2 separate regions of the Homo sapiens genome follow, and region 2 is linked to region 1. The links come from fine-mapping of genetic effects on gene expression. A gene starts in region 1. The other region holds a variant in brackets. All regions are shown on one strand. Distances are between the middles of the regions.

Region 1 (2,924 bases):
GAATATATGCAACTTTTATTAAGCATTTCATATTTACAAAGCTTTTTAGAGTAAAAACTAGATGTAGTTCAACAGAACTAGATGAAAAGTACAACTACATGTTTGGAAGCACATTTTCTCAAGCACTCCCATGGTATACTGTAACACCACTGCAATTTAAAAACTTACTCTTTTCCCTTGACCTCTCTTGTTCCAATTAAGCTTGTCTCCTCTGTAGTGTGGAAAACAACAGAATATTCTCGATAATAACCATTAATACACATGGCTCTGCTTTTGAACATGGTATTGGGGGAGGGGGTACAATGCCAATCAGTTGTTCTAAATGACGGCCGTACTGCCCCTTGAGGGACATTTTGGAGATTTTAAGGGCATTTTTGGTTATCAAGACAATTGGGGGACATTTAGTGGGCAGGGGCCAGGGATCCTATCCTGGAAAATTCTGGTCAGTTCTTCAAAATTAATTGATCTGAGTCCTGCAAAAATTTTAAATGCTCTGCCAGAGCAAATCTAATGCTAATATGTAGATAAAACTGAATTTTAAAAACGAATTACAAAAAAGTCCAGTAATTTAGAAGCTTAAATAAAAAAGCAATGGCTGTCTCAAAATCATTAAATAATTGAGGTACTCTTTGAATCCTGACTATAGTTCCACATATATTTAGACGAAATATCTCTGGGCAATGGTGCACTTAGTGTAAATACATATGGAGAGTTGAGATGCCTTTTAGCAGACTTAGAACAGAATATCAATAAATTGTAGGACATGCAAGAATGCTCACTCATGAAATTTCACTAATAAACGTTGTTATAAAAATTTTTCCACATTATTGCCATCTAGAGATTATTATTTTTGCACGATAGGAAATTTAGATTAGGCGAAAGTTACTTATTGATAAGGACCATCTCATTTGTGAAACTATTATTCGTTTCCTATTCTTCACTGTCTAAATTCTGTCTAATTTGTCTGGCATGTTTTCCCTACTTAAGTTAAATAGAAGAAAAAAGGAGAGTTAATTTTTTGAATGCTTAATTTGGGTTTGAAAAGCTTTTAAAGCATTTTGAAGTCTTCTATATTCATTCCAAAATAATTTAAGCTGTATACAGGCAGTCTCTGCTTACAGTGGGTCGACTTAACGATTTTTGACTTTACCATGGGTTTATGGGTATTGACTGCATTTTGTACTTAACAATGGGTTTCTCGGGTATCCCCACGTACAGGGAGCATCGACATATGCCTATTGAGTTAAAATAATATATGCGCCAACATAAAGCTAGAAAATACAACCGCAAAATCACCCGCGAGCCGGACGGCCAGGGAAGCGGTTAGCGCTGTGACGCCGGCGCGCAGGTGAACCGTGAGAATCGCCTCTCACCTCTGGCCGCGGAAGGTCCGGGGCGTGGTCGATACGGACGGCGGAGCTGACGTAGTCGATGCGGTTCCGTTCAGTGGCCGTGAAGATGTTGTCCGCCCTGGCTATGTCCTCCGGGCTTGGGTCAAAGATACGCAGGTGAAGGTCTTGCCTCCCGTAGGGGGCGAGGAACCGCTCTACTTCCTGCAGCGGGTACAGCAGCTTCCTCAGCTGCTGCTTCGGCAGCCGCAGCACCTCAGCAAAAGCTTGGGACGTGCTATTATAGCGGCTCAGTCGCTCTAGCACCGCAGGCATTTCAAAGAGTCTTCCCGCTCCCAGCCGCAGCCCGGGCGCCGCCATTCTCCCTTCCCAGAAGACGGGCAGAGAGATTTTACTCCTGTGGCCTGGGTTGCGCGTGCGTGACTTCCCGCTGCCGCGACGCCTGCTGGGAGTTGTTGTCTCCTCTGGCCTCGCTCGTTCCGGTCTAAGTGTTTTGCCTTCAGTGCGCGGGAGGAGGGTGGAGGCAGGCGGTGACCTGCGGGGAACAGCTCACTGGGTTTCTTTAACACCGTGGGCTTAACGATTATGTCTTACTGGAAGGATGTTTAACGGTTTGCAGAGGTGAAAGACCTATCTGGCCATGTGGCCTTTGAGTCTCAAGCGAAGGACTAAAGTGTGAAGCTCCGATGCATTCCAGGAACGTTTGATTTTCACAGTTTTTGGTTATCTTATTAACTGTTGACGTTTGTCGTAAGTCCGCAGCACTAGGATAAACACTTTTGCAAAAAAGAAAAGGGCTGATGAGAAATGTGATTGTAATAGCACCTCGTTTTCGTGGAAGGGACTGTTTGTATTTCCGCCTTCACTATAGGTGCAGGAAATGTCATTAAATTTTAGAGATTTCTTATAAAAACAGTTTTGCACAGATGTTACAGAATTGTTTCGTGGACGTTTCGTAATATCATCTTATTTCAAAAGTTTCTCCCTAAAGTCGATCAGTACTGAAATGGGAGATACAGGTATCATAATGATGAAATGAATAACTGAAAAATATTCATATGTTAAAAAAACTAGGTTTTCTAAAACATCAGCAGCCCAGAAAGGGTAACTCATGGTTTCTTGAGCTATTCCCCAGGTTGTTCAGTAATTAAACAGTACAATTCTTGAATAAATATGATACAAAAATTAATGAACAGAACCTGCGACTTTGAGGGCAGCCAATACGGCAGCCTGATGTGCTGCTGGCTGGCTAATTTTTTATTGCTCTTTGCATTAGGGTTTGGGGTGCCTTTCTGTTCGCTATTCTCTCTCCTCCATGTATAAAAGTGTGTATAATACTCTGTTGTATACATCAGAAATTTGGGATTCTCATTAGTGTGTGTTTCACTCATCCATGTGAAGAGATCACCAAACAGTCTTTGTGTGAGCAACAAGGCTGTTTATTTCACCTGGGTGCAGGTGGGCTGAGTCCCAAAAGAGAGTCAGCAAAGGTGGTGGGATTATCATTAGTTCTTATAGGTTTTGGGACAGGCGGTGGAGTTAAGAGCAATGTTTTAGGGGCAGAGGGTAGATCTC
Region 2 (2,924 bases), 210 kb after region 1:
ATGGCTTTTAGAGGGTGCTCATGACCACAGTGGGTAAGGAGATAGTAAAGACATATATAACCATGTGATTATATATGTATATATATGTAAATGTATGTGTGTGTATATGTATCCACACGTATATAACCACACCAACTTGCTGTCTTTACTCTCTCCTTACCCACTGAGGCCATGAGTACCCTGTAAAAGGGGATAGACTTTACAAAATCTACCAGTCCACAAGATAAGGAATTTGTAATTATTTCTTAAGGTTTGAGTCCATTTGAAGAGTGGTTTGTGTCAAGCAATGAAAAAGCCAAATACGATGTAGTATAAATCAGGATCCAGAGAGGAAAGCTCAGTTCGTGCCAGGTGTCCAATAGAAATAATTTAATACAGGGCACGAGGTACAAAAAGACTGGAAGAGCTGAGAAGCCAAATAGGGCTTCTTAAAGATTAGCAGCTTAAAGATTAGTAACAGCAGGAAGCCACTACCACCCACAGGACTGAAGGGACAAAGAAAGGAGATAGTGTGTACCAGAGCTTGGAAGTCAGAGTCACCTGGAGCTGGATGTGTAACATGTGTAAGATGGCTGCTTGGTGGGAGCTGGGACCATGGAAAAGGGCCCATTGGCATTGGCTGGGATTATGGAGAAGACCATGTCAACACTGGAGATACTGCTGGAAGCAGAGGAAGGGAAGATAAATCCCCTGGCTTCTCCATTCCTCTTATTCCTCAATTTCCTCCTAGTGCTGCCAATGACCATATCTAGCTGGAGGCAGTTGGCAAGGGAGTTTGGAAATTTTATTTATAGGTAAGGGTCCAAAATAAATTTTGGAACAAGCAGGTAAATAACCTGTACAGTGAATTAAATAAAGAGAATTCTCTTGGTCTTTCCCTGAGCACCTGAGGTGGCTGGGACAGCTCCAGCTCTAATGTCCATGCGCAAGGTAGGAAGAAGAGGGAAAGGCTATGCCAATCATTTATGTCTCCATTTACCAGCAAAACTAATTTCTATTTTCCAGAATGTGCCCAGTTGACTTCTATTTAGTTCTCACTGGCCTGGACTGAGCAGCTGAGAAACGGGGAAAAGAATGGTCATAATTGGCTTAGTCCATTTATCCCCATCTGAAGTGGTGCACAATGTTATTATAACCAAAATAAAGGTTTCAGATGGTGAGTAAAAGTGGGAAGTGGAGAGTGAGTAGGTAGCTAAAGTGTCTGCCAAAGAATTAAATGTCTTCTGGACTTTCAATCTTTGCTGACTTACTTTGGACTTTAAAGCTTCTGAGCAGCTTGGTATCCTGGTCCTCACTGAATTTTAACTGTTGGCCCCTCCCTGTTAGATATTTCACTATTTGTTCATAACTTAGTTTGAATCACTAGCACTTGTCCTTAATACTCTGAACTTCCTTCTTTAGTCTATTGTCTCCCAGTTTTGATTACATAAGGACAAATTCAGTATCTACTATGTACCAGGCATTGTTCTAGGAAGGTGAGATACATCAGCGAACAAAACTGGCAAAAAAAATCCTTAACCTCTGTAGAGCTTACATTCTGGTGAACCGAGACAGACAATAAAAAGTAAATAGCATATTAGAA[G/A]GAAGTAAGTGCTATGGAAAAAAACAGAGTAAAGTGGTTGGGATGGGAAGTTTCAGGGTGGAGTGTTCTCAATTTAAAATAGGACACTCAGGGTAGGGCTCTTGGAAGCTGAAGCCTCATCTGACTACTATCTGCATGGTTCTATTTCTCACAGAAAAGGTCAGGCTGGCCTTTCTCATAGTTAGGGAACCTTCCACTTTTCCTGGCTCTAGGGAAAAGCCATGAAAGTTTTCTTGATTCAGTTTTTCTAGCTTTCAAAGAGTAATAATTATGTTATTTGAAGTTAGAATTTATATACTTATTTTGTTCCGGACTGCTGAAAAGAACATGTTAACAGCAAAATCATTCAAGATTTAAGAAAATAAATCTGCTTGCACCAGCAATTTTAAAGTTTGATTAGTTTCCATCAACATATCCCTTATCTAAACATTTCTGAATTAAATAGCTTTTAAAATAGATATGCTACTGTAAAATAAAAATATACTTGAAGAATTTCTAATCATTGACTTCACACTAATTTCATGCTTAACCATGTAATTCTTCTGATTTAAAATTTTGATCTTTTGAACACAGTTTCTTTTTCCCAAGAAGGGGGTGCTATATAAAGATAATTGCTTGGTTGCAAAGACCAAAGTGTTGCTGACCTTTTGCTTGAATATCCATCCCTTTCCTCTTATATTTCACCAGCTTTTAATATATTTCCATCCTTTTCCTCTTATATTTCACCATTAACTCCATCCCTTTCCTCTTATATTTCACCATTAACTCCAAATGAGCCAGGCCTCATCTTTCACCCTATTCCTATCCTAACCAGTAGCCACAATAAGTTCAGAGTGAGATTCCTCAGATACATCCTACCTGCTGTATCCTGAATAAACCAGCTTGACTTGCAGAATTTTAAGCAGGGTAGCCTGAGCTTGTGGGTAATCATTCTTTGAGAAGGTCAGGAGCAATTGTCACTTAAATCCAAAGCCTTACTGTTACCCCAATTTACATTTTCCTCTATTTATGGAATACTACCTCATTTTCATCACTTTCCTAGAACCTATTAGAAATATGTTTTCTTCTATGACCCTAATAGTAACTCAGGAATACTTATATGTTTTGACATAATCTGGAATTTGTGTTTAGAGATTAAAATCTAAGATAATCCAATTCTGTTATATTATTTTAGTGCTGAATTATGTTTTTTAAAATTGTAGACAAAGTCTTCAGTAATCTCTATGCTGATGATTAAAGAAAACATTGCTATTTTCATAGGTCATAGAGAGGATAACTGAGGAATTCATTGGCAAGCTTGTGGGTGTTGCTTTTTACAGTAATTTATTGTGAAATATAGGTG

Evidence for each region. PIP is the estimated chance that this variant, and not a neighbour inherited with it, causes the effect.
Region 2: its variant is fine-mapped to the expression of GTPBP8 in nasal epithelium (TOPMed, PIP above 0.99).

What each region holds. Positions count from the first base shown.
Region 1 is chr3:112,989,785-112,992,708 of GRCh38, reverse strand. GTPBP8 (GTP binding protein 8) reads right to left here and starts at 1,725. Exons shown (of 6, transcript NM_014170.4): 1 at 1,374-1,725. The coding sequence starts at 1,709. RefSeq lists enhancers at 1,468-1,677, 1,556-2,183.
Region 2 is chr3:112,778,769-112,781,692 of GRCh38, reverse strand. No RefSeq gene overlaps it. Among named protein-coding and RNA genes, the nearest start is that of CD200R1L-AS1, 22 kb to the left of the region's middle. The variant G/A (reference allele first, on the strand shown) is at 1,583.